Linked DNA regions of Homo sapiens. The protein of the gene in region 4 purifies or fractionates together with the protein of the main gene of each other region. This does not show direct contact. Each region holds a gene or a part of one and is shown on either strand. Other genes may lie near its edges. The genes, in order: DHX37, PARN, MME, SLX9, IFT81 and NOP14.

What was found.
Region 1: the proteins of SLX9 (region 4) and DHX37 purify together in Homo sapiens (affinity purification with mass spectrometry; one large-scale study listed by BioGRID and IntAct). This does not show direct contact.
Region 2: the proteins of SLX9 (region 4) and PARN purify together in Homo sapiens (affinity purification with mass spectrometry; one large-scale study listed by BioGRID and IntAct). This does not show direct contact.
Region 3: the proteins of SLX9 (region 4) and MME purify together in Homo sapiens (co-immunoprecipitation; one study listed by IntAct). This does not show direct contact.
Region 5: the proteins of SLX9 (region 4) and IFT81 purify together in Homo sapiens (co-immunoprecipitation; one large-scale study listed by IntAct). This does not show direct contact.
Region 6: the proteins of SLX9 (region 4) and NOP14 purify together in Homo sapiens (affinity purification with mass spectrometry; one large-scale study listed by BioGRID and IntAct). This does not show direct contact.

The regions. Positions count from the first base shown.
Region 1 is NC_000012.12:124,968,632-124,972,131, forward strand, and holds part of DHX37 (probable ATP-dependent RNA helicase DHX37), read right to left. Parts: intron 2,785-3,500; coding exon 2,671-2,784; intron 338-2,670; coding exon 236-337; intron 18-235; coding exon 1-17. UniProt on the Homo sapiens protein: ATP-binding RNA helicase that plays a role in maturation of the small ribosomal subunit in ribosome biogenesis. Required for the release of the U3 snoRNP from pre-ribosomal particles.
Region 2 is NC_000016.10:14,578,261-14,581,760, forward strand, and holds part of PARN (poly(A)-specific ribonuclease PARN), read right to left. Parts: intron 2,684-3,500; coding exon 2,614-2,683; intron 1-2,613. UniProt on the Homo sapiens protein: 3'-exoribonuclease that has a preference for poly(A) tails of mRNAs, thereby efficiently degrading poly(A) tails.
Region 3 is NC_000003.12:155,181,319-155,184,204, reverse strand, and holds the end of MME (neprilysin), read right to left. Parts: 3' UTR 501-2,886; downstream 1-500. UniProt on the Homo sapiens protein: Thermolysin-like specificity, but is almost confined on acting on polypeptides of up to 30 amino acids. Biologically important in the destruction of opioid peptides such as Met- and Leu-enkephalins by cleavage of a Gly-Phe bond.
Region 4 is NC_000021.9:44,943,029-44,946,528, reverse strand, and holds part of SLX9 (ribosome biogenesis protein SLX9 homolog), read right to left. Parts: intron 2,846-3,500; coding exon 2,692-2,845; intron 1-2,691. UniProt on the Homo sapiens protein: May be involved in ribosome biogenesis.
Region 5 is NC_000012.12:110,214,857-110,218,356, reverse strand, and holds part of IFT81 (intraflagellar transport protein 81 homolog), read right to left. Parts: intron 314-3,500; coding exon 131-313; 3' UTR 1-130. UniProt on the Homo sapiens protein: Component of the intraflagellar transport (IFT) complex B: together with IFT74, forms a tubulin-binding module that specifically mediates transport of tubulin within the cilium. Binds tubulin via its CH (calponin-homology)-like region.
Region 6 is NC_000004.12:2,939,407-2,942,906, forward strand, and holds part of NOP14 (nucleolar protein 14), read right to left. Parts: intron 2,946-3,500; coding exon 2,786-2,945; intron 2,324-2,785; coding exon 2,176-2,323; intron 240-2,175; coding exon 121-239; intron 1-120. UniProt on the Homo sapiens protein: Involved in nucleolar processing of pre-18S ribosomal RNA. Has a role in the nuclear export of 40S pre-ribosomal subunit to the cytoplasm.

The DNA.
Region 1 (3,500 bases), on a different chromosome or scaffold from region 4:
AACTGCCTGGATTCCACCTGTGGGACGCCCAGGAAGGCATGGGGAGTGGGGGGGACACGAGCTTCGGCCCAGGGCTGCCTTCCCTTTCCCCATTATTCCGAATCAAGGTTTCTAACACCCCCTCCAAGCTGCTGTCAATCCCCCCTGTGACCAAGTGAGGTCTCTCAGGGGGCTCCCGACACCAGGGCGTCCTTGTGCCATCCAAGCTCACAGAGGACATGGGACCCTGTGTTACCTTGATGACCGGCGGCGGCTTGGCGAAGAGCCGTGGGTTCTGGGTGAAGTCCTCCACCCGCAGCGTGGCCGACATGATGAGCAGCTTGAGTGGCAGGTTCCTCTGCAAAAGGACAGGCTCAGTGACCGTGGCCCCAGGACCGCAGGTGGGTCTGAAGCCTGGGAAATCGGCATGGGGGTGCCCTGCTGCCCACCCCGTTTCCAGCCCCCACCCTCTGCCCCTTTCTGGATGCCAAAGGCTCCTTGGAGAAAGTGAGTCAATAGTGGGACCTGCCGCTCCCAGGGCGGTGGCTTGTTCCAGGGGGTCTTTCAGAGTCAGGCTTTGATGGTAGAATATGAGGCAGGTGGGCTGAGACTGGGGCCCACCCAACCCAGCTCCCACCTGACACCAAGATTGACTGAGTGTCTGTGCCGGGGGCTCAGGGAAGAGCTGCCTGATTCTCTGGGGTCTGTGGGGGGTGGGAGAGAGCTCCCGGGAGCTCCCTGGTCCCCAGGCCGCTCAGCAATGCCTAATGGCCTCATGGTGAGCTCTGCTTCAAGCTCTTGCTGCCTTTGCTGCTACGAAACCCCAAACCCAGAAGCTAAGGAGTGGCCAAAGCACCTCTGTGGGAGGCAGGACACCCAGCACAGGCCCCTCTCTTGCCCCACAGTGACCGTCCCTGTCTGCCTCACCCCCGTGCCTTCCGGACCCCACCTCACCCTCTCTGCTTGGCCACTCTAGACTTCCTGATGGCCCCCAAAGACATAAACCAAGGCCACAGTGAGGTGTCACTGTCCACCCACAGGGATGTCTAGAATAACAGAAATGGAAAACGACAAGTGCTGGCAGGATGTGGAGAAACTGGAAGCTCTGACACTGCTGGTGCGGAAGTACCATGGAATTCTGCAGCCGCTGGGGGAAATCATTTGCAAATGGTTACACACAGAGTGACCATGGTCCAGCTTCTTGGGAGGCTGAGGCAAAAGGATTCCTTAAGCCCAGAAGGTCGGGGTTGCAGTGAGCTGTGATTGCACCGCTGCACTCCAGCCTCAGTGACAATGAGACCCTGCCTCGAAAAAAAAAAACAAAAACCACCACCACAAAAAACCATAAAAGGCACAGCGTTTCTTTTTGTTTTTGTTTTTCAGATGAAGTCTCGCTTTCTCACCCAGGCTGGAGTGCAGTGGCGCGATCGCGGCTCACTGCAAGCTCCACCCGCTGGGTTCAAGTGATTCTCCTGCCTCAGCCTCCCGAGTAGTTGAGATTACAGGTGTGCGCCACCAGGCCTGGCTAATTTTTCGTTTTTTTAGTAGAGACAGGGTTTCACCATGTTGGCCAGGCTGGTCTTGAACTCCTGACCTCAAGTGATCCACCCGCCTCAGCATCCCACAGTGCTGGGATTACAGGCGTGAGCCACCGTGCCCGGCCTAGGGTTTCTTGTTGGATTGATGAGTGACAAAATATAAAACTGTGGTGATGGCTGCACACTCTGTGAACGGACTAAAAACCACTGAATTGTACATTTGAACAGATGAATGATATGAAATGTGAATCACAGCCCAATAAAGCTTGTTACCAAAAGAAAAAAGGCACCAGGCAGACGCCCGCCTCAGGACCTTTGCATTGCTCTCCTCCAGTCAGACTTCTCCTCGCTCTGCAATGCACGCCGCTCACTCCCTCCCTCATTCAGCCTTCCACTTGAGCTCAGAGGTCACTTTTCGGGTGAAGCCCTCACTAGCCCTGTGTCCTCCCTCCACTGCCCCCGGCTTTGTCTGTCACTGGCTCACATACTCTGAGTCTGCGTCCTGCCTGCCACCCTTGCTGAAGTGGAGGCCCCAGGAGGGCAGGAACTGTTAGAACAAGACAGCGTCTTGTTCACTGTTGATTTTCAGGGCCTTGAATGTGGCCAGGCTCATGGCACATGTGGAGCGCAGGCCCCTCTCCCCGCCGGGAGGGTGAGACAGGCCTACTGCATGAAGCCGCGCCCCAGGGTGGCACCCACCAACTCAGCAGGCCCCTGTGTCAGGCTGGGGCAGGGAGATGGAGAAAGAGGCCCTGGGGAGCCCCTCTCAGAGCTCCGGGAGCCTGGCCCTTGGCTGGGCAGGCCCACCTGCTCTGCTGATCCCAGAGGCCCAGAGGCCTCATCAACCAGCCCCATTGCGCCTGGCAAGGCATCAACACTTCTCCTGAGCCTCTTGCTTTGGATGGGGAGAAGGACACCAGTTTATGAGGCTGGCACCGGGGCGGTGGGGAGGGGATCACACAGGGGCTGTTCCAAGATTCACAGCCCTGGCACTAGGCCTAGACCTAGGCCCAGGGAGACCTTGTGCTCGGGGTACCTGCTCATGGCAGCAGCCCAGGGTACAACGGGGAACAGGTGAAGGAAGCCCAAGCCTCTGACAGAGCTGGGGGGGGCCTAGGGCTCGGGGCTCCCCAGCACCCGCCTCCTGCGCTACCTTAGCCCGGAGAGTCACAATGCGGGACAGGAGGCCGATGAGGATGTCCGTGTACACGCTCCTCTCGTGGGCCTCGTCGATGATCACCACCTTGTACCGCAGCAGCAGGAAGTCCTGGGGGGAGGTCCGGGGTGAGGCCCACCCTTCCAGCCTAAGCCCCAAGGGCCGCTTCACGTCCCAGAACTCCCACTTGAGGAGACAGTGTTAGAGGAAGGGCAGCTGCTCTTCATCAGAGGTGAGCTGCTCAACTCAGATGCCCGCAGAGTGGGAGGGCAGGTGGGAAATGGACATGAGATGTGGGGTGGGGCCGTGGGCAGTTGGACAGCAGGTGCCACACAGACAGGGGCCACCCAGACCCAAACTGCATCCACTGCCACCCCCAGGAGTCCCAGTGGCTTCAAAGCCAGGAGGGCTGGAATCACCTTTGCCATCCCCCTGGGAGATTGGCCCTGCCCAAGGGGACGTCACAGCCAGCACGGAGCACAGCTTCTTCACCAGACAGCAGTCCCCCACCCGGGCCCTGCATGCTCTCTGGACACGCGTGCCACCCACTTGACCGAATGGCCGGCTCCCTAGGAAGCATGGGGTGCTTCCCCAAGGCCCAAGTGGGCTGACTAGGGAGGCAGCAGCTGGGGTTCCGATTTACAAATGGAAAGTCCTTGGGACGCAGCTTCTGAGGCCAGGGACCGTGAAGACGCTCAAGGGCAAGCCCCAGCGGCCCCTCCCCTTTCCCTCAGCCTGAGGCTGGTACCCCACTCCGAGTCTGGTGCTGCCCCTCACCAAACGCAACTGGACTCGAAGCTCCCAAGAGGGGGCTGTGTCTGGACCCG
Region 2 (3,500 bases), on a different chromosome or scaffold from region 4:
GGAGGTTGCAGTGAGCTGAGATCACGCCACTGCACTCCAGCCTAAGTGACAGAGTGAGACTCTGTCTCACCAAAAAAAAAAAAAAAAAAAAAGAGGAATAAAAACAGTTCTTGGCTAGGCGCGGTGACTAACGTCTGTAACTCCAGCACTCTGGGAGGCCGAGGCGGGTGGATCACCTGAGGTCAGGAGTTCGAGACCAGCCTGACCAACATGGAGAAACCCCATCTCTACTAAAAATACAAAAAAATGGCCGGGCATGGTGGCACTTGCCTGTAATCCCAGCTACTTGGGAGGCTGAGACAGGAGAATCACTTGAACCCGAGAGGCAGAGGTTGCGGTGAGCCGAGATCACGCCATTGCACTCCAGCCTGGGCAACAAGAGTGAAACAACATCTCAAAAAAAAAAGAAAGAAAAAAAACACAGTTCTTATTTTGTATTTCAAATCTTGCAGGAATATTTTTCCTTTAATGATGAAGAAAATATTCTTCCTTTACAGATTGGAAAAAAATAGACCAAAAAAATAATCACAGAAGGATTCCCAAATCCCACCTCCTATTCAACTACTCTTGGTATGCATCTAGGTTTTACAAAAAAATTCTGAATGGACAGATGTCCCAATTCAAAATAAGCCTACACATTTACTGTCTAGTTCTTTTCAATAATAGTCCTGCACAGTATTAGCAATATTAGATTGATCTAGAAATACAGAAAGTCTCAGCTAGCTTTTTTTTCTTTTTTTTTTTGAGAGGGAGTCTCACTCTGTTGCCCAGGCTGGAGTGCAGTGGTGTGATCTTGGCTCACTGCAGCTTCCGCCTCCTGGTTTCAAGCGATTCTCCTGCCTTAGCCTCCCGAGTAGCTGGGAATACAGGCTAATTTTTGTACTTTTAGTACAGACCGGTTTTCACCATGCTGGCCAGGCTGGTCTCGAACTCCTGACCTCGAGTGATCTGCCCGCCTTGTTCTCCCAAAGTGCTGGGATTACAGGCGTAAGCCACTATACCCAGCCCAGCTAAGCTTTTTAATCAAAGTTTATTTTGATTGCTCTGCATGTTGGTCACATACATGACTGATAAACTAGATGCAGCCCACATCTAACCCAGTTTGCATCCAACATCTGATTTTATAAGGAGCTGACTTTAGTGGAGAAGCAGGATTACTGTTTTAATATTTACAGCGTGTAAATATTTACAAATGACTACTCAAGAGACTGAGGTGGAAGGGTCACTTGAGCTCAGGAGGTGGAGGCTGCAGTGAGCCAAGATCATGCCACTGCACTCCAGCATGGAAAAAAGAGCAAGACCGTGACTCAAAAAAATAATAATAATAATACAAATGAGTCAACATCTCTCAGTTGAAAAATACTGCAGAACAATGAATTTAACATCAAGTACATAAAAATGTAAGGGAACAATCATAATTGGACCTATATTTAGCTGGCCACGGTGGTTCACACCTGTAATCCCAGCACTTTGGGAGGCTGAGGTGGGCAGATAACCTGAGGTCAGGGAGTTCGAGAGAAGCCTATTCAGCATGGTGAAACACCATCTCTACTAAAAATATAAAGATTAGCCAGGTGTGGTGGTACATGCCTGTAGTTCCAGCTACTCCATAGGCTGCAGCAGGAGGACTGCTTGAACCCAGGAGGCAGACATTGCCGTGAGCTGAGATTGTGCCACTGCACTCCACATTGCAGCCTGGGTGACAGAGTGAGACACCATCTCAAAAAAAAAAAAAAAGAACTATATTTAACATCAATCACCTGTGGGTTCCATGGTCTACAGCAAAGGCTACATTTCCAAAGACAAACACTGCCCCAAAAAATAAAAGAGCTAAGAAAATCATGTTTTCTACAGGCGCCCGCCACCGTGCCGGCTAATTTTTTGTATTTTTAGTAGAGATGGGGTTTCACCGTGTTAGCCAGGATGGTCTCAATCTCCTGACTTCATGATCCGCCTGCCTCAGTCTCCCAAAGTTGGGGGATTACAGGCGTGAGCCACCGCGCCTGGCCAGGAAATTTTCTTTTGTTTTTTTTGTTTTTTTTTTTCAGACAGAGTTTTGCTGTGTTGCCCAGGCTGCAGTGCAGTGGTGCAATCTCAGCTCACTGCAACCTCTGCCACCTGGGTTGAAGCAATTCTCCCACTACAGCCTCCCGAGTAGCTGGGATTACAGGCACATGCCACCACGCCTGGCTAATTTTTGTATTTTTAATAGAGACGAGTTTCATCATGTTGGCCAGGCTGGCCTCGAACTCCTGACCTCAAGCACTCTGCCCACCTCAGCCTCCCAAAGTGCTGGGATTACAGGTGTGAGCCACCACACCCGGCCCCTCATAGGAAATTTAAATGCCAGAACTACCAGTTCTTTTTCTTGGAAGAGATCTACTATACTACGTCTAGCAATGTTTTCTTTTTTTTTTTTAAGCCTATATTTTTAATACATTTGTTCCCCAAAAGGTCACTTTCTACTTTCAAAAAACATGTGAGTCACTCGAGATGAAAAACAGCTTATCTAAAAATGTGTTATAGCTCCCAATAACTCCAAACTGACATCCCAAGATATGAGGCTGTTCCACAGTGAGAGAACTTGGAAACTGGAACTCTCTGATTACTTACTTGTTAAAAAAAGGTTCAATGAGTTTTGATCTGGCAGACACATGAATTTTTGGAGGGCTGAGAAAAGAACCTAATGAAGAAAAGAAGAGAGGTATTATTATTCATAGTCACATAGACCAAGCCTGAAAGTTCAGACCAAAACAGATTTAAATTAACAGCATGGTTCAACAAGTGTGAAAGGTATTCTTTTTTTTTTGAGTCAGAGTTTCACTCTTGTTGCCCAGGCTGGAGTGCAATGGCGCAATCTCGGTTCACTGAAACTTCCACCTCCCAGATTCAAGTGATTGTCCTGCCTCAGCCTCCCGAGGACCAGGGATTACAGACATGTGCCACCATGCCCAGCTAATTTTGTATTTTTAGTGGAGACAGGGTTTTTCCATGTTGGTCAGGCTGGTCTCAAACTCCTAACCTCAGGTGATCCACCCACCTCAGCCTCCTAAAGTGCTGGGATTACAGGAGTAAGCCACTGCGCCCGGCCTGTGAAAGGTATTCTTACGCACCAAGTACCATACCACAGCAAGTGTCAGTGGTTTTTCTTGCAGATTTCCTCCTCCCCTCATCTCCTCCCACTCCTACCTCAAAACCCTCCCACTTTTAATTGGGTGAGTGGATCCCAAGGAAATGGTAGTGCTATAGGTTCAATGTTTGTGTCCCCCTAAAATTCATATGTTGAAGCCTCCCCAGTACGATGGTATTTGGAAGTGAGACCTTTGGGAGGTAATTAAGTCACGAGGGAATTAGTGCCCTTATAAGAAGGGTCAGGAGGCTGGGTGCGGTGGCTCAAGCCTGTAATTCCAGCACTTTGGGAGGCTGAGGTAGGAGGATCACTTGAGCCCAGAAATTCTAGATCAGCCTGGTTAACACAGCAAGACCCTGTCTCTATAAAA
Region 3 (2,886 bases), on a different chromosome or scaffold from region 4:
TTTCTCACTGTTTTAGAGGAAATGCAAAATACAAAGAAGCAGAAATTAAGAAACCATTGTTAGATAAAAGATTAGAATGCGATAAACATGTGCCAGTTTGACCACCAGTCAGATGTGACTCCTCTGTCCACTTGACCAACCAAATGGTCAACTTCTTCAGACTAGAGACTGTGGATAAAGACACTTACTTTTGGCTTTTGCCTAAGTCATCTGATTATGCTAGTGACTCCATATAACATTTGATGGCCATTTCACTTTTGAAAAAAAATCCAATCAGAAAGTCATGGTGATCTTTGAAAAAGGGTGGGGAAAACAAGGACATAATGGATACAAAGCTTATATCATTCATTTTCTAAAAATTCAATTTGAAGCTAGTGGGAAATGCAAGACTACAGAGATAAAAGCTCCATTTAATCTTAATATTTTTCAAGAAATAAATGGGGTAGAGATTTACACAGGAGTTGGCAGTTTGGAACAGAGTTGACTAGGCATAAAAGCAATAGTATTAAAAACGTTTGTTTTTATTTTGTATTTTTGAGACTGGAAACTGATAAAAATTTCTGATTAGGAAACTTTGAGAATAGAGTCTTTCTTCTTTCCAAAATAACAAATGTCTTTTAGTTTGAGAGCTCCAGCTGTGGCAACAAGAATGATAAATGCTTTTGAGAAAATTAGCAAGGTTTTGCCCCACTTAAATGGTTAACAGTAACAGCAGCACAGACCCAAACTTGATAAAACTTTGGTACTTGTTATTTGGACTAAAATTTTGTCTCACTCGATTCAGACACGTAAATGGGAGTTTTCAGTTTATCCTGCCCACTGATTCATAACTGGGAGACAGATTCATGGGAAGGCAGCATTGGACACATACTCCTTCTCTTGCTGAGAACCACCAATATAATCTAATTCTCTTTTTTTAGGTGAGAGAAGCAGAGGCCCAAAGGAATATTGCAAATACCCAAGGTCACCCTGTCAGGAGTGGCAGAATAGGGCTGGAACAAGGACTCTTTTCTCTGGACAGCTTGCACCTACAATCCTTTCCATCTTGCACCTACAATCCACTCGAACACTGCAGCATGGAGGCAGACTCCTTGCCAACGGGTATTGTCGAGAGCTTCTTCCTACCATCATTTGTGAGTTTCATCAGCTCCCAACCCTTTGTGTCTCAGCTTCTAAACTTTCTTTCTTTGACCAGAACTCAGCCATAGTAGAACTGGATTTATGGATGGAATTAGAGATATGTCTTATCTGATGTGACAACTCCAAAGAATCGGTAGTGCTTTAGAGACATCAGAAGGCTCTACAGAACTCAACAAGAGTACCATGTAAAATTCATGATGTCTGGATGTGTGAGGGATAGGGAGGCATTGCTATTTTTGACTTTGATCTATCCTTTAGGCCCAGAAAATCTTATATTTGTAGACAGAGGGGATCCAGGCACTGGAGAGTTGTTCCTCCATAGGGATGGGAGCCTAATGTTTTAAAAAGCTAACAGTGAAGAGTCTAGTGGCTTTTTATAATTTGTACTAGTCACTCTTCACTTCTGGCTCTTCACCTGCTCTGACATGATGGAAATAAAATAAGTTAGAGACAGCTGTTTTATTAGAGCTGGAAGCTCCTATTACTCCAACTACAAATGTCACTTAGGTAAGTTTTAAATGTATTTTAGGGAAATATAAGTATACTTGTAACGGTGGTTGTGATAAAGGAGGAAAGGGTAAGGGTATCCACAGTTGGCTTGAAACTATAATTTCAATGCTTATAATAATTTTTGGAAGGATTTGAAGAAATAAGTCCATTAAAGGCTCAAGTAAGATGGTAACATGCAGTACATTCATAGTTGCACTATTTGTAATAGCGCCAAAATGGAAAGTTCTCAAGTGCCCATCAACAATAGGATGAACAAATTGTAATAAGTCCCACAATAGAACATTATTCTGCAATGAGAATGAAAAGATCCACAATCAGCACAATACAGAGGAATCTCACAAATGTAAGGCTGAGAGAAAGAAGCCAGGCACAAAAGAATACATACTGATTGATTCTATCTGCATAAAAGACAAAACCAGGCAAAGCTAGTGAATGATATTAGAAGTCAGGATAGTTGTTGTTCTGGGAGTAATAAAGTGACAAGGAGGTGCTTTTAGAGCGCTGGTACTGCTCTGTTTCTTACAGGTGCTGGCTACAGGGCCATTGTTCAGTTAAAGTTAAGTTTATTGAACTGTATACTTATGCTTTATGCAATTTATGTACATATGTTATAGTATTTCTGTAACTTTTTTTTTTAAAGGCAAATGGGCATTTTTCAAGAGACAGGGAACTAATACTCATCATTTAGATAGAAATTCCCTGCTTTCATCTTTTGTTAGGAAAAATAAGAATTTTGGAAGTGCTCCTCTTTTGTAAAATCTTAATCAAGTAATGAACGAAAATAGTCAATACAACAGGAAAAGAGAGGAACAGAAGCCTCAAAAGATGAATTCCTATCAAGCAGTAAACAGTTCTTTTCCAGAACTCTTTGTGACTTATAATTCTAGAAGGTCCATCAGAGGCCTCCCATTTCTATTCAGAAATGCACTTCTAAAGTTAGACAGTTGTCACAGTCTTAGGGAGCAATGAGTTCACAATTTCAATTTATTATCAAAATATTTCCATCTGATGACAAACCTGAAAAGACAGGAGATGCAGAGCTACATAGGTGCAGATTTGCCCTTTTATCAGAGACACTCTCAGGGACAGATTTAATTTTGAAAGTCCAATTTGAAAACCACAAGTATATATATCTCTAGACAACTGTCCAATGGCAATTTTTACCCTAAAGTTTGTGCTTAAATCTTTTCATCAATATGATTTATAAGTTTAAATAGTCTCAAATTTTCATCTGTA
Region 4 (3,500 bases):
CCGGCTCCTGGCCAGAAGCACTAAGTGCCTCCCCAGGCCAAGGCTCCTCCCCAACACCCAAAACCCTGACCCTGCCGCACGGCTCAAATAATTCCCATCCTCGTGCCCCTCAAGGCGGGCTATGGGAAACACCTGCACACAAGCAGGAAGCGCCAGAACGGGCCACGCTACTGTCAGCACGAGCTCAGGGCTGGGGAGCGCCAGAACGGGCCACGCTACAGTCCCGTCAGCACAAGCTTTAAGATTTTTATGCACAAATAAGGGTATGTGAATTAAGAAAAAAATTAATTACCCAACAGACTCACAAACAATAGAATCTTCAAATTTTTTCAACTTATTGTTCAATTATTTCAAGAAAACACTTCTATGCTCTACTCTGATAACATGGTTCTGAAATTTGAAATCAATCTTTGACATTGTAAAGTTCAAGCTTCTACCCTCTCCCACCAGTTACTCTAAATTAATGAGGTTTGAGCTTACGAAAAACAAAGACCAGGCCGGGCGTGGTGGCTCACACCTGTAATCCCAGCACTTTGAGAGGCCAAGACAGGCAGATCTCTGAGGTCAAGAGATCGAGACCATCCCGGCCAACGGGGTGAAACCCCATCTCTACTAAAAATACAAAAATTAGCCGGGCGTGGTGGCGTTAGCTGGGCGTGGTGGCATGTGCCTGTTGTCCCGTCCCCGCTACTCAGGAGGCTGAGGCAGGGGAATCACTTGAACCCAGGAGGCGGAGGTTGCAGTGAGCCAAGATCAAGCCACTGCACTCCACCCTGGCGACAGAGCAAGACTCTGTCTCCAAACAAACAAACAAACAAAAAACAAACAAACAAAAACAAAGATCCAGCATGGCTCAAAGGAGAGGCCACAGGGCTGCTGGGCACGACCTCAGCCCAAGAACGCTGCGAGGCCAGATGTTGCTAAAGAGGAGTTTCCCTGGTAGGCAAGACGGGTCGTGAGCGTGACGTCTCCCTAAATTAGGAGGGGAAGAGGGGACGTGACAGTCAGTGCAGCAGGTGACCTTGGGGACCAGATGAGCCACAGGGGCTTGAAGGGAGAGGGCCAAGAAAAGGCAGAGGAAAGAGGCTGCTGTGTGAAAGAGCTCTGAGAAGCTCAGGCCAGAGCCAGGTCACTGAGACCCACGACTCCCATCCCCTTGGGGACAGCCTTAAGGGCCTTGTCAGCAACCAGGGACACAGCTCGGGCGGACCACCCACATCAAGCGTTCCTGGCTGGAAGGCACAGCTTCTCTCTGGAGTTACCTGGCCTGGTCACCTCACCAGGTCCTCCTTGGAGAGAAGGAGCAGGAAACCTGCACTGGTTAAATGTACCTGGATCTTTCTAGAGGCACAGTGAGGCCCTTAGCATCTATGAGCTATGTCTGTCGCCGCTTTGTGGACAATGGAGCTAAGGGTCACAGAGCACCCGTGATCACATGACTTGTGCCCAAGGAATTAGGGCTGGCCCACCTCTGGGCAGCTGCAAAACCCACTCGTCCCCAGCCTTCCCACCAGACCAGCCTCGTTCAACAGATGCAGAGCGGGCGCCTCCACAGCCTTCACTGCACTGTTTTAAACGTTTCACACCAACTACCTCATCTCAAACTCAAAACTGCCAGAACTTAGGAGATAAATACTGTTACCTCCTTTGACAGATGCAAAGCCCAGGCCCAGAGCGATCAAGTGTCCAGCCAGAGGCTACCAGGCGGTGAGGGGCAGAGGCCCAGAGCCCACGATCTTAACGGGCCATCTACAGGCCCCAGACCCGGCTCCTGCCCTGTCCTGGCGCTCCCAGCTCTGCCGACTGTGAAGCCACATGCAGTCTTCACTGTCACACTGGTGCCCTGAGCTCTGCCCCCACAGCCAGGCCCTCTCCCTCCCCAACCTATGACTTCCCAAGGCTGTCAAGATGTAAAAAGTATTCCTTGTGCTCCTCACCGACTCCCTTAGATGAGTGAAGGAAGCTTTTTCCTGGATTTATCCCTGGGAAGTGACACTGCTCACCATCCTCCAGCCAGAAAGTCAACACTCCCAGCATTGACCATGGTGGCCGGGAACTCTCTAAAACACCTCAGACTCAGTAGGAGGTGCAGGGGGACGGCGTTCCCTGCTAAGCTCCGGACACTGGAGTGAGTGGGAGTTCCCAGACCCTCTCACTGGCCAGGCTGACGTGTGTGCTGCAGGGCTGCAAGGAGCACAACCAGGAGACGGGAAGGGCTGCGCATGGATCTGATGAAACTGAGAGGACCCTGCTTCGGCTTCAGGATCTAAACCCTCAAGAGTTATTTGTACAAAATGATAAGCAGCTAACCTCTGCAACACATAAAGCACTTGTTTAAGAAAAGGATCAAAACTGCCCCAAACATACAGACAGACCGAAAGAATCAGCACACACGGAGAAAACAGTTCAAACCCTGTTGGTCACCAAAGCCCAAGTTCCTGTGGCTTCAGCGTGGCTGCCAGGACGCAGAGCAGTTCTTGCAGAGCTGCGGAGACATGATGCAGCCCAGGGGCAAAACCACAGCTGTAATCTACTCTGGGGAATCGCCCCAAGAAACAGCCAGGGGCATCCCTTGCTCAAGGACATTGTCAGGTACAGGTTAGCTGGAAAGCTGCTGAGACCTCGGGTGCCTGAGGGAACAATCCCAGACCTGCTGGGTATCAGCATGGTAACCCGTCGAGCCTGCCTCACCTCTCCTGATGGAAGGGACGCTCCGTGCACTCGAGCCTGCCTCACCTCTCCTGACGGAAGTGACACTCCTCACGTCCAGCTCCAGCTTCTGCACCAAGGCGCTGGGGTCTATCTTGGTCCTGGCAAAGATGTTGGTGTTGATGAACGCCCAGTCCTAATGTCCCCAACAAAAACGGACGAAAAGAAGAGGTGTGAGACTTGCTCTGTGGTTTCAGAGGGACGTTAAAGGTGAGGAGAAGATGCAAGACAAGAACCTGGATTCCCCAGCTTCTCTGCCCGGGAGGACCTGGGGGAAACAACCCTCACCTCCCAGAGCAGAAGCCTCCGGTTCCAGAGCTCCAGGGCAGACCCGCAGCGCCCAGGCCCACCTGCTCCCTGCCTTCAATCACCAGACGGGCTTCACTCCTGGTTCTTCAGGAGTCAGGACCAGTATCTCAAGAACCAAATTTCCTTCCCAACCATTTCGTCTTACTCTTTCTACAACATTCTCCTGTGTCACAGAAGAAACCTGCAGCTGAGCAGATGAAGGATAGGCAGCTCCCAGCCTGACAGCTCTTTCAGCTCAGACTGACCACATCCCATCAGAACTAGTCATCTCAGCAGCCTCTCTGCCAGGTCTGGTTCTGAGCCACACTCATCCCTGCATGAAGATTTCAGTTCCTCCAAGTCAGCTGCCGACCAAACCGTGAGGAGACAGAACCCCCCCGTCCCTGACCCCCGTGCTGCCCAGCCCATTCATGTGCAAGCCTCACTGACCTTGGCAGGGAAGGCAGCATCGACCTCAACAGAGGTTTCTGAAGGGGGTCAGA
Region 5 (3,500 bases), on a different chromosome or scaffold from region 4:
AAAACTTAATAAAGAATGGCTCTTCTGAAAACAAAATGCTATACAAATCAGTTTCAAAAAAGAAATACATTATGAGATTAGGCTTATAGCTAGTGGTATCAAGTAAAACCCCAAACGATGACACAAGAATTCACAGTATTAGCCGGTCCTCCCCACCCTCCTGAATTACCTGACCAATGGAAGTTTGGCTTTGTTGTTTCAGAAAGCACTGTTTCTTACATTCCATTAATTGTTCCAAATCACGCCACATTTTTGCTTGTTTCATATTTGGACCATGACTTTCTCGTATAACTTTTTGTTTTTCCCGAAGTTTCTATCATTAAAAAAAAACAAGAATAATTAAATCTCAGTTACAGGGGTTTATTTCTATTGCTATAGTCGGAGGAATATGGTATGTTTTCTACAGTAGATAAAAAATAGTTAGCTAAACCACATACTCTATAATGTACCAAAACTAAGATTATAAAAGTTAACTAAGGCCAGACGAGGTGGCTCATGTCTGTAAACCTAGCACTTTGGGAGGCTGAGGTGGGCAGATCATGAGGTCAGGAGATCAAGAGCTCTACTAAATCCAACACTAAGTCAAACTGTTTGCCTTTCTAGTTCTCCAAAAAAATACAAAAAAAAATTAGCCAGGCATGGGGGCACGCGCCTGTAGTCCCAGCTACTCGGGAGGCTGAGGCAGGAGAATCGCTTGAACCTGGGAGGCGGAGTTTGCAGTGAGCCGAGATCACGCCACTACACTCCAGCTTGGCAACAGAGCAAGACTCTGTCTCAAAGAAAATACAAAAAACAAAAACAAACAAACAAAAAAAACTACACAAAACTATAAAAGGAAGTGAGAGAAAAAGATAGTTAGGAAAGTGGAACAGTATCATGGTGTGAAAAGAAGAATGTAGAGTTTGGAAGTCAGAAGACTTCGGTTTTAATCTGGTTTTGTCTCCTCTAGTGGTAAGCAAGGCACTTAATTTCTTGGGACTTCAGTTTTCTCAATTATCAATTAAGGTTAATAGACCAGGCATGGTGGCTCACGACTGTAATCCCAGCACTTTGGGAGGCTGAGGCGGATAGATCACTTGAGGTTAGGAGTTCGAGACCAGCCTGATCAACAAGGTGAAACCCTATCTCTACTAAAAATACAAAAATTAGCAGGGCATGGTGGCGTGTGCCTGTAGTCCCTGCTACTCAGGAGGCTGAGACAGGAGAATGGCTTCAATCTGGGAGGTGGAGGTTGCAATGAGCTGCAGTCGTGCCACTATGAGACTCTAAGTCAAACTGCTTGCCTTTCTAGTTCTCCAACAAAAACCAGCTAGGAGGATATACATGACATATTACTCAAGAATGTACAGTTATAGCTCATATAGCTTTAAAATAATTCATTTATTAGCCTAAGCCTGAGAAATGTCCACATTTTGTTTTAGAATTTCCATTTACATAAAAATTTCTCAAGAAACCAACAGGATCAGTATATTCTATATACTAAAACCTAATACTTATTTATTCAAGATATAATTATGAAGCACCTGTTATATGTCAGGTATGCTTGGAGTTTCAAGTGGAAAACAGGACTCATGCTATATAGGTGGGCAGATCACCTGAAGTCAGGAGTTCGAGACCAGCCTGGCCAACATGGTGAAATCCCATCTGTACTAAAAATACAAAAATATGAAATACAAAAATTAGCCGGACATGGTGGCATGTGCCTGTAATTCCAGCTACTCAGAAGGCTGAGGCAGGAGAATTGCTTGAACCTGGAAGGCAGAGTGAGCCAAGATTGTGCCACTGCACTCCAGCCTGGGCAACAGAGTGAGATTCCGTCTCTGGAAAAAAAAAAAAATTAAGGTGAATAATAGGAGGCTGGGGGCTGGGCACGGTGACTCACACCTGTAATTCCAGCACTTTGGGAGGCCAAGGCAGGAGGATTGCTTGAGCTGGGGAGTTCAAGGCCTGCCTGGGTAACATGATACTCTGTCTCTACAAAAATAAAAATTAAAAAATTATCTGGGCATGGTGGTGGCACATGCCTGTAGTCCTAGCTAGTTGGGAGGCTGAGGTGGAAGGGTCACTTGAGCCAGGAATTTGAGGCTGCAGTGAGCTATGCTCTCACCACTGCACTCCAGCCTGGGCAACAGAGCGAGATCCTGTCTCTTAAAAACAAAACAAAACAAAACAAAACAAAACAACCAAACCAAGGCTAATAATAGGGGAAAATAAAAGTATTTACTTGGTAAGATTATGTTTTCAAGTGACATAATAGATATTGAAATACTTGATAAATTATCATGTATTATATATATCCTTGTTATTAAATGTTATATTCTATCTTATCCTGAAACAGTGTATACTCTATTTATGTCCAAATAAATCAAATTGTATGCACATATACTTCAGAGAGCAGGCCCAGTGATTACGAAAATAGTACACTATTAAATAAGCCAAAATCCTTCTTAGAATTGTTTTTGTTACTAACATCTTAGATGGTCCACCTGCCAAAACTGTTTTACTCATTGACTCTAAAATTTTAAACAGGAATAAAAGAATCTTCAATAAATTACAAAAATATACTTTAGTTCTATATTATGGCAAATTGAGGAAGGGTGACTGAAAGCAAGAGTAGACACAAAGTCAGAGACAATAAGTGACACGGTAGGAAAAAAGAGAGAGAGAATCCAGCCTGGGCAACAAAGTGAGACGCCCCTGTCTCTACAAAAAAAAAATTTTTTTTTAATTAGTTGTGTATGGTGGCACATGCCTGTGGTCCCAGCTACTCAGGAGGCCGAGGCAAGAAGATCACTTGAGCCTGGGAACTCAAGGCTGCAGTGAGCTGTGACCATGCCATTACACTCCAGCCCAGGTGACGAGTGAGACTGTCTCAAAAAAAAAAAAAAAAAAAAAAAAAAAAAGAAGAAGAAGAAGAAGAGAAGAAAAAGAAAAGAAAGGAATTCATTCATAATCCCATGTGCTAGAGACAACTACAGTTGACATTTTGGTAGAGAAGGTGAAAGTGCACATAGAACGAAATGCAGTGTGTTGGAAATATCTGTACCGACACCGAGTGTGAGAAAATCACCAAGAGGGACAGAAAAGCAAGCAGAGACACAGAGGCAGAGTGCAAAGGAACAACCTCATCCTTTCCTCTTTTAACATACGGTCAATATACTAGTTGATCTGAGACACAAATGAGAATGCTGGTAGTTGGTACTTGCCTAAATAAGAGGATTAACTAAGCTGAGGACCAGAGTCAAACCACCCATTAAATACTGCCCACCCAGCTATGCATAATGAAAGCAAAGTTAACAGCAAACAGGAATAGAAAACAACACAGAATTTTAAAAATATAAATATAACCAGTAAATTTTTTGATGCAATACCTGGCATATTAATACATCTATTTAAGTTTATGTTACAAATAATGTATCTTACAACAAATATTTTATCCTTATAAACTAAAAAGTATTTAGAAAGGCCATTAAGGCAGACCAAGAATTTTAAGACTTCTG
Region 6 (3,500 bases), on a different chromosome or scaffold from region 4:
CTTGGGAGTGTGGCTTCACTCCGTAGTCATCTGCTCAACTGCAGAACTGGCAGACGCCCCCCGTCAGCTCCCACTGAGCCCACAGCCCTGGCCTCCCAGGGAGATGCTGCCAGCACCCACACTTTGACCAGCCGGGGTGTGAAAAGCTTCAGTGGGACAGGCTTGCTCTTCTCACAGGTCAGCGGCCGGCAGAGCTGCTTCTGGCTTTCCATTTCGGTCAGTGTGCTCTGACACAGCTCCTGAAAAACACGAAATCCCCGACTCTGCGATGACTCACCTGCTGCGTGCCCTGAGCTCCACGCACGGGTTCTGTGGTGTCAAGGCAGCGTGAGGACAGTGCTGCGAGCTCCCTGCAGCAGGATGGTGCCCTTGCTGTGCGCCTACCGGTGGGCGGGGGGGTAAGCCAAGGCTGTGGCTGCTCAAGTCCTGGCACAGCCGGAACGAAGTAAAGCCACTGTCTTCTTGAAGAGGGAGGGCCGTGGGCTGGCCCCTGAGAGCACTCTCTGAAAGGAGGGGACTTGGGGAGTTGGAGGTCACCATAGCCTGTGCTCCTCACAGCCAGAAACGTCAACAGAACCCCTCTTTCCCAGACAAACTTGGCACGAAAGGCCGTGAGCCACTTGCTTCGTGAGAAGGCTCACAGGAGAACCCCTTTCTGCCGCGGGGGGCCGTGTGCATGCTAGAGCCCAGTGTGCAAACTGACGCTGGGTGCTAGGCGGGGCAGGGTTTCCACCAGTCTTGGCAGTTTGACCTTATTTTCAAGCCAACAGAACCAGATGGTTAAGACCCATTTTCACCAAGACCTTGGCTTCCAGAAGAGTTGGCTGGTGGCTTCTGAGGAATCTCCCGAAAGGTAGTTCACTGAGGTTGGTCCTACCCGCTTTCTCCTGCACAGGTGTGTCCTGGAACCCTGGCTGCACCCACAGATACAGCCACTCCTGGGCCCATGTGGATGTAACCTTCGAGTGCCGGAATGCCTCGTCTCCATGGAGACCAAACTCAAGGGCCTGACTGGCCCAGTCTACCGAGACCATGAGACCTGCTGTGCCCCTCGGCCAGGCCAACCCAAATTCTTTTAAATAAAAGGCACAAGCCACAGCCACACCAGCAGGAAGTGGATACAGGATAAGGGGCAGGGCTCACATCTCATCCTCATCAGCCTTTGACCAGGCGACGGAGTCTGTGATAGCTAGCTTATCTGCTCTATGCTCCAGGGACCTGGCCGGAACGAGCCGAGTTGCTGTCCTCATGGAACTCTCATCCTAGTGGGGCAGAGACAAGGACGGTGTAACGTGCCCGGGGGTCAGCACCACAGACAAAACGCAGGGAGCACGGCACAGTGTGGGCCAGGGAAGGCCTGGCTTCCCAAGGGTGTGGGCGCGAGCAGCATGGCTGTGGGGAGTTCTAGGTGCAGAGAACTACTCCAGAGACGAAGCCAGGCCTGCGAGGAGGCCGGAGCGCATGAGGGGAAGGCACGAGGCAAGGCTGCCAGGGCTGTGCTGGTGGTGCGGGACGGTCCTGTGGGGGTAGCTGCGGAGATGGCACTGATGCCTTCGGCTCCAGCAGCATCCTGGGCTGGTGCGGGCCAATAAGGGGCAGGGTTGGGGCAGGATGAAAGGCACAAGCCACAGCCATGTCAAGCAGGAAGTGGATGCAGGGTACAGCCTGTCAGGGTCAGGGTGAAAGGCAGGGAGGCGGGTAGGCCATAGGTGAATTTGGAGCAGCCTGTAGAGGACAGGATGTGCCATCAAAGACTTGTTCTTGGGTCCAGCTGAGACTGTCCCTTGGGGCTTCCTGTCACCTTGTGCAGGATAGTGAGACCATCCTTGGAAAACCCATCGGGACTGCAGAGCGCGGCTCAGAGCTGACTGTCCAGGCCTGGCAGGGGCTGACCCCTGGGCGCTGGTGCACCCTCCGTGCGGCCTCTTGGAGGAAGCACACAAGGCGACAGTTCCCAGCTGCCGCCTGAGATGCAGCATCTGCTTTACTCCAGCCCAGCACTGCTCACCGTCACTGCCCACTCTTATGATTTTACTTCCCTTCATATTTGTGATTTTGCAAAGATGGTGTTGACTTACAGCTGCAGCATCAAATGACTGACTGCCACCAGCTTGGCCCCAGCTCAGGGACATGTCTGAGCCCAGGCAGAGCACCCTAGTGGCCGGGAAGCCTCACCTGGAGCTCCTGCGGGTGGCTGCAGTCCGCCAGGTGATCCGTGAGGAGGGCTTGGAGAGGCCCCATGATGGCGTGGAAGGATGGCAGGGACCCGTACATGAGCACGCAGCGCTTCAGCAGGGCCAGGCCCACAGCCAGGCAGGACAGTCTGTGAGGGCAGGAGGCAAGAGGAGGTCCAACTTGTTCTGTTTGTCACTGACAAAACCAATAACGTGGCAAAAATGAACTTCCCCACTTCCACTAGGCTGAAAACTCCAGTGTGGCCACCTTGGCCGGCCAGGGTTGGGCCCATGCAACCACGGGCAAGGCAGGCTCAGGGTCAGGCCTAACGCAGGAGGGGAGGCTGTGGGAACCGCAGCGCCAGCTGGGATGGGGCGGCTCCATTTTTGGTTCCAAATTATGATTTGTGAAATCAAGCAAATGTATTTTGAAAATGAAAAGAAAAAGGGACAGCAAGCCAACATGCCTCAGAAAGGCTTTCGGCCTCCATCAAACCAAACGGCCGGGCGGCAAGTTCACTAAGAACAGCACATCAGAAAGCACGAGTGGCTTCTCCTGCCTCTGGGGACGCTGTAGGGCACAGGCCCCAAAGCGGGGTCCCCTCACATACCGGATGTGATTGGCCTCTGTCGAAGTTGGGGCCCTCAGTCTACTCGCCCAGCGGAGGGAGAGGCTGCTCTGCTGCCACGTGGCCACATCCTCTCTAGCAGACACCACGAGCAGTTCCGAGTTCTTCCCAAGCGCTCTGAAAGGGTGCACCAGAGTGGAACCTGAATTCCAAGTGCGACAGGACAGAGATGGCCTGAACATTACTGGGCTCCCAGCAGGCTCTGCGGCACCGAGCCTGTGGAAGTTCACCCTCTAACAGACGCACACCGATTTTTATGTTTCTGGGTTGTGCCAGACACTGAGGGTTTCAGCGTGGGCAGGGACACCTCAGGGGAGGGGAAAAGCTTTGGCAGGGGGCGCGGTGAGAGCCAAGTGCCTGATCCTGCCTGAGAGGCCTGCTGGCCACAGACTTCCTGGGGCCTACTAGGCACACATGGGGCTGATGAGGCGCTCAGGCCACATCCGGGAACAGACTGAAGTCCCTGCCCCTGTCGGGGAGACAGGCAGTGCACAGCACCCAGAGGAGCAAATGGACCAGACAGAACACGAGAAAGGAAAGTGGAGGGGCAGGAGGGAGACAGGAGAGTCAGTCGGGGGTGACGGTGGAGGGCGGGAGAGGCCTGAGGGGCAGACGTCAGCAAAGGCCTGTAGGACGCAGGAGTCAATTCACTCGCCACGGAGAAGGGCAATCCAGGCCGAGGGTGTGGCTACACGGG